2 separate regions of the Homo sapiens genome follow, and region 1 is linked to region 2. The links come from fine-mapping of genetic effects on gene expression. A gene starts in region 2. The other region holds a variant in brackets. All regions are shown on one strand. Distances are from middle to middle. Region 1 overlaps ABAT (4-aminobutyrate aminotransferase). Region 2 holds the start of ABAT (4-aminobutyrate aminotransferase).

Region 1 (5,374 bases), 45 kb after region 2:
CACACCCATTTTCCAGTGGAGAAAACAGAGGCACAGCTAGTTGTAAGCCCAGGCCACATTATGCCCCCACCCCCTGTTTTGTGAAATTTAGTACTAAAGATACTACATGGCTGTGTGATGTCGGGCAAATCACTTAACCTCTCTGTGATCTGTTTCCTTTTTTCTTTTTTTTGCTACGAGTGGATAATTATAATATCAGAAGGTTGTTCTGATGGGTATTATGATATATAAAGAACTTAGAACAGGGTTTGGCCTAAAGTAAGCGCTGAGCAAGTGTCTGCTGTTGCTGCTGCTAATTGTATTTGTTGCTGCAGTCGTGATCCCAGCACCCTCACCTTGGCCAGTGATGGGGAAACCTGAAGGGTGTTTTTTCTTCTGTACCCAGGGCGTGCTTCATGGGTTTGTGATCTATATGGTCACACAGGGTCCCGTGTTCAGAAGATCCCCCCATGTCACTGACTTGCAATTCGTAACCATTTTCTCACAAGGGGCCTCGAATATTTATTTTATGCACTGGGTCCCACACATCATGTAGCCAGCCCTGTCTGCTCTCCCTTTTTATTGGATCCCGTTGAGAGCCTCTCCTAGACTAAACTACTTGTGCCTACGTCATTGCAGCAGACAGGCCCAGGCAGGCCGTGGCATTTCAGCAGGTCAGATTGTATGTTCCTGTGACCACACTCCAATTCTGATGCAATGCGTCAGCCCGCACAGGCCAGTACAGTAGCCGTTCATCACATCTGGTCATTGAGCATCTGAGACGTGGCTATTCTAAACTGTGATGTGCTGTGAGTGTGAAATTCACACCAGATTTTGAAGACTTAGCACACATCCGAAAAAGAAATGCAAAATATCTTATTAATAACTATATTGATGGCCGGGCACGGTAGCTCGCGTCTGTAATCCCAGCACTTTGGGAGGCCAAGGCGGGTGGATCACTTGAGGTCAGGAGTTTGAGACCAGCCTGACCAACATGGTGAAACTTTGTCTCTACTAAAAATACAAAAATTAGCCAGGAGTGATGGCACACACCTGTCATCCCAGCTACTCGGGAGGCTGAGGCAGGAGAATCGCTTGAACCTGGGAGGCGAAGGTTGCAGTGAGCCGAGATTGTGCCACTGCACTTCAGCCTGGGCAACAAGAGCAAAACTCCATCTCAAAAGTAATAATAATAACTATATTGATTATGTATCAAAATTATTACATTTTAGATACAATGGGTTAAATAAGATACATGAAAAAAATTGGTTTCAGCTGTTTTTGCTTTTTTCATATGGCTACCAGAAAATGTAAAATTACCTATGTGGTTTGCATTGAAAGCTTGTGTTATATTTCTTTTGGGCAGTACTGTCTTAGAGCATACTACCTGTGCCTTCATTGTGACTCCAAACCAAACCAGACCAGCAGGTGACAGTGCAGTGAATTGATTTCTAAGTTACATTAATACACACTGGCCCTGGTGCTGTAGCTTAGACCAGAGTCTCCCAATCAATCCATCAGGCACCTCTTTCTGTTCCTTCTTTTCTGTTCCTTTCTCTCTTAAGATAGTCCAAGACACTGATTTTTATACCCAGTGAGTTTGTCAAGTAGCCTAAAGATATTTTTGAGGCAACGTATTGGGTAAAAAGAAACTGAAGTTGGAATCAGAAGGACTAATTTAAGAATTAAATTAAAATCCCAAATCACCTCTTTTTTTTTTTCTTTTAGAGATGGGGTCTCGCTCTGTCACCCAGGCTGATCTCAATCTCCTGGGCTCAAGCGATCCTCTCACCTTGGCCTCCCAACATGCTGGGATTACACATCAGGTCCCAGGTCACCTCTTCTCCATGAGGTGAGCTTGGGCATGTTATTTCTCTGTGCAAGGAAACAGAACAGCACTAGCTTTAAAGCCTCACAGACCCGAGTTTGAAGACTGGCTCTGCCGTTGACAAGCTGTGTGACACAGGATAAGCCACAACCCTCTCTGAACCTCAGTCTCATCCTCAGTCTCATAGCGCTGATGATGCATACTGTGTAATACTGTTGCAAGAATGGAATAAGATGAAGCAGAACAAATGTCCAACCCAGCAACTGGCACATGGCAGGTGTGCGCTTAATCCCTGCATTCTTAGTGGGATCAGTATTCCCAAGAGAGTGAACATTTATGGGAAAGAAAAGAAATCTTACTCTTTATGAATAAAGTACAGATATAAAATACAATACATAAGCAGATGTACAATTTATCTGTGGAATTAAAATTTCATGGGGTATGTAGCTAATAAAGAATCTTTAGGGGAATGGCAATGAAAAAAAGTTTGAGAAACATTGCATTAATCTGACGGATGGGACTCAGAGGTTGCTTTTCAGTTCAGTTCCTGTAGTTGTCAGAGTATAGGGCTGAAACTCCATGATTGAATTCAACAAGTGTTTTTGAGCACCTACAATAGCCAGACACCGTTCTGGACCCTGGAAATGGAGGGCACCCTCCAGGTACATGCTTCCCAGAGCTGGTCTCTGAGGTCCCCTGAGCCAGCCCCTGCCTCTGGGAAGATGACCCCTAAATGGCAGCCTCAGTCAGGGGGCAGGGTTTTAGAGAACAACAGGAATAGAAGTATTTGCCTCCCAGGAGTAGATAAGACGGTGTATGTGAAACCTTGACACGATTGGCATTCATTCGTAAAATCAGAGCAGATA[C/A]CTGCACACACAGGCATAAATGAAAGATACTTTGAATTACAGAAAAGTTAAGGTCTTTGCAAGTGCATGTAGGAATGCTGCCAGGCACACAGCGTGACTCCAGCCACCAACAAAGTGTTTCCAAGTCTGGAGCTGTGTGGTCCTTGAAGGAAATATAAATGTTTCACTTGTTATACGCTGTGATTTTTGCGTACTTAGCGGTTTCTGGAGTCCGTGAAAGTGGTTTGTTTTCTCTGAACGGGAAGTGCGTTTCCTCCAATCACACCGACCTGATTTGTTTGTTGCTTGTTGGGCCTCCCCACGGGAACACGAGATCCCACAGAACACAGCAGGACGTGTCCTTGTTTACTGAGGAATCTCTGGGGCTCGGCACAGGTGTGCAGAAAGCATTTATTGAACTGAACAAACAGATTTTACAAGCCGGACCTTCTGTGGCGTTGGCCCGGGTAGCTACTTCAGCATGGGTCCAAGCATCCTTTCTAAGCCAATTCCATTCTTTCACTCCTCCTCCCTTGTAGGATCAGAAATCCAAAGCTAGCTTATCCTTTTGCAGATGTTTCTTTCCATATTATTTCCTACCTCCAGAACAAAGGCTATCTGTGTCTCACATTCGGAGGCTTGGATGTGAAGCCCTGTCTGTTCATTTTTCTCTCCAGTTTTTTCACAGGCTGGGTAACTACCTGCCTGCTAGCAACGATGTGTTCGTTCTCCCTGGATTCCTGATTGAGGTGGGCAGAGAGGACTCTGAGACAGGAGCATGAGGATGAGGCAGATCAGCTTCTTTCTCATGAAATCTGGATGTTGAGGCTGGTAGCAGGACCACCGCATGTGCCAATAGTCTTTAGCAGCTCATCAGGCCATAGAAGAAGTGCCTTTACTAACTTCAAGTCCAGCCTGGGAAACGTAGTGAGACCTTGTCTCTCCCTGTCTAAAAAAAGAAGAAGAAAGAAGGAGGAGGAGGAGGAGAAGGAGAAGGAAAAAAAGAAGTTGTTCACAATTTTTGTTTACTCGTTTACTTATTTTTGAGATGGAGTTTCACTCTTGTCGCCAGGTTGGAGAGCAGTGGCACGACCTCTACTCACTGCAACATTCGGTTCTCAGGTTTAAGCAATTCTCCTGCCTCAGCCTCCCAAGTAGCTGGAACTACAGGCACCTGCCACCACGCCCAGCTGATTTCTGTATTTTTTTGTAGAGTTGGGACTTCACCATTTTAGCCAGGCTGGTCTCGAACTTTTGACCTCAGGTGATCTGCCTGCCTCGGCCTCCCAAAGTGCTAGGATTACAGGCGTGAGCCATCGCGCCCAGCCAAAATGCACAATTTTAAAGAGCTCTTTGGAAACAGAAAATGGCCTGCAACAGGCATCTCTTCCACATCCTATGTACTTTCTTCAATTGACCCTAAGCCAGTTGAGTGCCTCCTGACCCCACAAATAGATTTCATTCTTCCCATTTTACAGATGCAGAAACTAAGGCACTGATGAGTTCAGCAACTTGCCTAGGTAATATATATGGCCCAGCCACACTTTAGACCCAATTTCTGGCTCTTGTTACTTTCCCCACATCATTCTCAGTCTTTCTTAGGAATGGACATTTGCCTGTTTCCAAGAACAGTATTTCTGTCTCCCTATACAAGTCACTGATAATTTTATGATGCCCAAGAGGCAGGTGATAGGAAGTCATGCCTGCAGGGAGAGAGGGCTGGGGCCCATGCGGAGGGGAAAGTCAGAAGAGGCTGTTGCAGCTGAAGTCGGAGGAGAAAAGTGGATGTGAGATAAAGCCTCTGTCCCTGTGCCACTGCCCCTGAATGGGGCCCTGTTAACCCCATCTGCACAGGCCCACGGCTCCGGCTTTATGGGTTGCTATGGCAACCCCTGGCCTTGACAACTGAAGTGCACTTGGCTGAGTGTGTCTTTGTGTCCCTTTGAGTCTGCAGAGAAGCCAGCAGCTGGGGCTGCAGACGGGAAAGGAATGTCCTCAGCGTCTGCCAGCACTTTTGTCTTGGTCCCAACGGCTGATAGGAAAATGAGAGGCAGGGTCTTTTCTAGAGAGATCTGGGGGGTCCATTTCTAGCCGATGATGCATGCAAAGAGTTCGTGTTCACAGGACCTGGGAAGCAGCGGAGTAGAAAGGTGAGTCAGACGCCATCTTCATAGGCTGCTTGTTGAGCATTTACTGTTTATTCAATGATTGTTTGCAGGCAGGCACTGCTCTGGGGCTGGGGAAACAGTAAGGACTTCTGCCAGCCCACAAAATAGTTCCAATTGCTATTACTCCCATTTTACAGATCAGGAAACTGAGGCACAGAGACGTTACTTAATGTGCCTGAGGTTATACGGCGGGTCAGTGAGAGGCCAGGGATGTCTAGTCTGGGGGTAAGATCATTTTGAAGGATGCAAGATTGGGGAGATGCAGGGAAGAAGCAGTTTCATATCCAGCACCTCACACTCTGCCTCCACAGGCTTTTTTCTCCCTGTATCCATGGGATGTTTGACCTCCAGTTCCAGGGATTTGAGGATCATGAAGTCCTGTGGTCATATGCAGGGCCCACCGTCCACTCTTTATGGTAATTAACAGTAGTTCTCAGCCTCCGAGCCTCCAGAGCTTCCCCCGGTGCCCAGGTCACACCTGTGAGACTCAGACCTACTTAGTCTGGGTGGGGCTTTGACACAAGTGTAAGCTTCTGGTGAGCGAGCGTCAGGTG
Region 2 (5,374 bases):
ATTAGTGACATTGTAAAGTTTATCCTCTATTAAAAATAAACCCAAGGGGATAAAAAGAAATTACTGACATGGACATGCAAATAAAGTAATATTAGAATAATCTATAATTTCAATACACAAAAATAACCATTCTCCTACTGAACACAGTTTTTCACTCAGCATTGCTAGCTAGCTATATCGGTGCCTTTTAATATGATAGCCACTAGCTACCTGTTACTGTTACACCTTAAATTAAAATTAGATACAGGCTGGGCGTGGTGGTTCACACCTGTAATCCCAGCACTTTGGGAGGCTGAGGCAGGCAGATCACTGGAGGCCAGGAGTTTGAGACCAGCCTGGCCAACATGACGAAACCCTGTCTCTACTAAAAATTAAAAAATTAAACAACGAGCCAGGCGTGGTGGAGCACGCTTGTAATCCCAACTACTCAGGAGGCTTAGGCAGGAGAACCGCTTGAACCTGGGAGGCAGAGGTTGCAGCGAGCTGAGATCACACCACTGCACTCCAGCCTGGGTGACAGAGCGAGACTCCGTCTCTAAAAAAATAAATAAATAGATACAATTAAAATACAGTTATTCGGTTAACTAGTCATTGCTTTTTCCAAAATTTTAAATTTATTTTTCCCTTTTCCTTTTTTTATTATTTCTTTCTTTCTTTTTTTTTTTTAAACATCTTGGATACCAAAATTAGTCATTTCAGGTGTTCAATACCTCCATGTGGCTAGTGGCTACCACACGGGACGGCACAGATATAGAGCATCATAGAAAGTTATATTACACAGCATTGATCTAGCTCTACCTGGTAGATTTAACAAAAAGTAAGATGTTTAACAAAAAGTAAGACAGTACCAAATATACTGTTTTTGCAAATAACTTAACATTTTGAGATTTGTTTTGTTTTGTTTTTGAGACAGGGTCTCACTCTGTCACCCAGCTGGAGTACAGTGGTGTAATCTTGGCCCACAGCAGCCTCAACCTCCCAGGCTCAAGGCTGCCTCAGTCTCCTGAGTAGCTGGGACTACATGCATGCGCCACATCGCCCGGATAATTTTTGTATTTTTTGTAGAGACAGGGTTTCACTATGTTACCCAGGCTGGTCTTGAACTCCTTGGCTCAAGCGATCCTCTTGCCTTGGCTTCCCAAAGTGCTGGAATTACAGGCGTGTCACCACACCCAGCCCCATTCAATATTTCATACCTATGTTTATTGTTCAATTTCATGCAACAATTTCCCTCTGAGTCCCTGCTGTTGTGCATTCAAGTTGTTCCCAGTTTTTCCCTGTGATAAACAAAATGGTAGTAAGCTACTTTATCATTAAATCTTTGTACCTTTAAATGTTTTCAGATAAGTTCATAGGGATTGGATTGCTAGATCAAAGGGTCAACTTACTTTTAAGATTTTTAAAATAGAAATACCCAATTTCCCTCCAGAAAGGCTGTGATCTTTCTACTGCCATCATCAATACATGAAACTCCTTGAAGTCTTTGCAAAGAATAGTAATTATAATAATAAAAACAAGGTCATTTTGGTAGGTAAACTCTTTCCCTCTTTTGGTTTTAACTTGCCTTTCCTTTTCAAAGTGTCATCTCCCATGTTTATTGGCCGTTGTATTTCTTTGGGCAGGTCAAGGGTAGTAAAGGGGATTATGTTCATGGCTTTGGTTTTAAGAAAAAATTGCTAGATTTTCAGCACAGGCCTCATCAAGTTCCTCAAGCAAGGTGACAATCACCCAGGCTAGAGTGCAGTGGTGCCATCTCACCTCAGTGCAACCACTGCCTCTCCATTCAAGCGATTCTCATGTCTCAGCCTCCCAGGTAGCTGGGATTACAGGCAGGTGCCACCATGCCAGGCTAATTTTTGTATTTTTAATAGAAAGGGGGTTTCCCCATGATGGCCAGGCTGGTCTCGAGCTCTGGGCATCAAGTGATCTGCCTGCCTCGGCCTCCCAAAGTGCTGGAATTACAGGCGTAAGCCACTGTGCCAGGCCTCAATTATTCTTATTTACTGCTCTGTGTGTGTGTGTGTGTGTGTGTGTGTGTGTGTGTGTGTGTGTTGGGGGGGAGGGTCCCCAGAGGTGACACTAGGAGGTGAATGATTTGTTTGGCAGCTTTCTATTTATCTATGTGTTTACTTTATCTTAATTCTTTAATTGCAAGGACTATAGCGCTTGTGTAATCAGAGATAGGGCAGCCTGGATTCCTGGACAGCAGGAGGAGAGACCTCAGGGTTCTACAAGACTCCACAGACCAAGTTATCAGTGATCAGGGTGAGTGGGGAGAACCAAGCTGAACTCTTTCTCTGCCTTTAAGGTCTGTACTCTCCATCCATCCATTCATTCATTATGAGGACTTGGTGATCGCCTGTTGTCTTGATGAGCAGTTCTTTGTGTCTTTGATTTTGTCACTGAAAGATTGCATCCTCTTTCCAAATACCTCTAGAAAGCTGTGGGGGGGCTATCCATCCGTCACACCTGAGTATTAATTATCTTCCACACAGCATTTTATACAACGGTAGAAAGGCACCTTCATCATATCTAGGGTCTCGTTTATACCCACGAAGGAGGTACAATCTCTGTTGTCCCAATTTCAGGAAATTGAGGATCAGGAGGCGCAGTGACCTGCTCCAGGTCATGCAGAAGGAACCACCTCTGACTCCCAGCGCCCTGTTTGTCTTCCGGAGCGCTGGGGCCAGGCGGAGGAAAGTAGCTGGGAGCAAGAAGGGCTGGCAGGGCCCTGAGCGCCGAGATGGGGAGTGAGGTGGGGAGGGCGGGATGCTCCTTCCCTTCTCCGCAAAGGAACCCCTTCTGATTCCGACTCTGGAGCTCCAGAGACCGGATCCGAGACGCGGGTGGAGGTGGAGTTACACTCGCCTGCAGCCCTGAGGGTGTAAATGGCCCATTAAGATCCAGGTTAAATCAACCTATGGAGCTGCCCCCCAGAGGGTCAGGGTCCCCACAACTTGACGGGGGTCCTCAGCCGTCTCCTCCCCAGTCCCAGGACTCCCTCCCAGCCCTCGCGGTCCCTCTGGTGGGTCCCGCCCCAGCCCCCGTCTCCCCCGCCCCCGGAGGCTGGACTCTGCCCCCGCCCCGCCTGCCACCTCCCTCCTGGGGGCGGTGGCCCGTGGCGGGCGCACCCATTGGCTGTGGCGAAAGCGAGGGCCGGGGCTGGCGGCGCTGATTGGCCGGGACGCTCGGCGGAGCCAGGGAGTCCGGCGAGTCGCTGGGGGAAGTCGAGCAGACACCCAGCGCTGCCGGAACTCGGGGCGCGCATCCCGCAAGTCGGAACCCGGCGGATCGGATCCCGCAGATCGGAGACGGGGCCTGGAGGTGAGCGCGAGGCGCCGGGTGGCTTGGGACGGGCCCTTCCGAGGGGAGCCGAGAGGAGGTCCTTCTGCCCTGCCCCCAGGAGCAAAACCTGGGCATCTTCTCCTGGAAACGGAGCCCTCATCTTCCCAAGACGCGGGGCCCTCCCCCGAAAAGACAGGGGCTCCCACCCCCCAGAGAGCAAAATACCTTCCTTTCTCCTTCAGAAATGGGCCCTTCCTCCTGGCTCCAGCTCTAGACAGAAGTCCTCTCCCTTTTACCGCTTGAAATAGAATGCGGCCCCAAAAAGTGGTCTCCAGGTCTCTAGAGCCCCCTCACCTCTTGGGAGACTGATGCCCCTTCCCCATCCTTAGAAAACTAAGTTTGGGTGTCTTCCTTCTCCCCTCTCTTTCGGAATAATGGGGGTCTTCTCAGCTTATAAATTACAGTGACCTCCCCCTCCATGACAAATGGAAGCTCTCCCCCCATCATAAGACAAGGAAATCCCGGAGCAGAGACTCTGCAAGTCACCCTCCCACCCCAGATACTGGGCTCTGGAGAGATAGATGATTCACCCTTAGCCCTGCCGGAGACCCCTCCCTACCCGTCAGAGAGGCAGGGTGGCCTCTGACACCACCACATTAAAGGCTTTTGGGGATTTCCCCTCTCCTCCCCAGTAAAGATGTAAAATGAGGGACCTTCATACTCAGGAGCAGGGCAAAGGTCTGGCCACCCCTCCAAGTCATCCACCTCCCTCCACTCCACCCAAGCCCTTTCACACAAACCCCATCCTAGTAACCCCCTGCACCATCCTCCCACCGCTCCCAATCCCATCCTTCTCCACCTCACCCCAACTCCACTCCCACACCTGGCTGCCCCACCTATTTCACATCCTCTCACCTTTCCTCACCCACCCTGGCCAAGGTAAGACTAGAGGGGGTTCAGCGAGATTTAGTAAGACTGGAGCTCTTAAAACTGGGATCTGGGGCCTAGAGGCCCTTCCAGGAGTCTTCAAACTCTGACAACAGAGATGGCCTCTGAGGCAGCAGGACCAGCAGAGACCACCCGCCACCTCTCCCCCGCTCCCTGCCCCAACACACGCACAAAGGCTGTGTTCAATGCATTCTCTCTTGCAGTCTGGGAGGACAGCTGGCCCTCTTCCAAGAGGGCCCGCATTTCCCCCCTAAAGTGTGCACCCCCGCAAGCGCCTGTGGACATTGCCTGGTGGAATTCCCTGGGCACTCAGCCAAGAGAAATGGGTGCTGCTGGGCCCATCCACTGGGGAGGAGACAGTGTTGGCTTTGCTGCTTTGATGAAGCTAGACTAAGGGACAGGATGTTGGTGACCTGGGGGTGGGGAGGGGGTGGGAAGAGCTCTTCTCTGGTGGGTCAGGTTGGGAGGCAGGAGAGAGGGAGGCAGTGAGTTGTGTCTTGCTCTTTGGAGCCTGTGTTGCGGCGTGGAGTCATAGAGAAATGTGTTTTCTCGAGGCCCAAAGAGGTTAGCCACGGGGAGAGGTAAATGGTCCAGTCTGGAGTCCTAAGACCTAAAAGGGCTTCTGCATTAAAGACGTGGCCCCTTCATTTGACAGTTAAACACACAGAGGCACAAAAGGGGAAGAGACTTGCTCAAGGTCACCCAGCCTGTGGGAGACAGCTGGCCCCAACCCCTCCAGGACCCTTAAGGTGCTAGGATCCCTGACACAAGCCCCAGTCCTCACATTTACAATGGGGACTTGGGGACTGCTGGGTCCCAAGTCCCCACTTGTCAGAGGAAGCGCCAAGGCTCTGCAAAGGTCATGAAGCCAGGAAGGGGCAGAGCTGGAACTCAATGCCATCCCCCAGCAGGCTGCCTCGTGGAATCCATTCCTGGGTGTCAGCGCATCCCTGCTTACCCCGTGCGATCTTTGTGTTGAGGCCATTGCCAAATCTAGGCTTGCCAAAATCCAAACTGACCCAGGATAGCTAATAAGATCAGTTGCAGCTAATGAGAATGAGATGCTGGAGTGGAGGCTACTGCAGGAACCTCACTTGCATAGCTGGGTTTGCTCCAAGAACTTTGGACAGGTCCTGAGGAT

Evidence for each region. PIP is the estimated chance that this variant, and not a neighbour inherited with it, causes the effect.
Region 1: its variant is fine-mapped to the expression of ABAT in testis (GTEx, PIP above 0.99).

Annotation. Positions count from the first base shown.
Region 1 is chr16:8,716,133-8,721,506 of GRCh38, forward strand. The region is part of intron 1 of ABAT (4-aminobutyrate aminotransferase); the gene reads left to right. Among named protein-coding and RNA genes, the nearest start is that of ABAT, 44 kb to the left of the region's middle. RefSeq lists an enhancer at 3,971-4,471. The variant C/A (reference allele first, on the strand shown) is at 2,674.
Region 2 is chr16:8,671,388-8,676,761 of GRCh38, forward strand. It overlaps ABAT (4-aminobutyrate aminotransferase), which reads left to right and starts at 3,230. Exons shown (of 16, transcript NM_020686.6): 1 at 3,230-3,324. RefSeq lists enhancers at 2,227-2,728, 2,729-3,228 and a silencer at 2,823-3,282.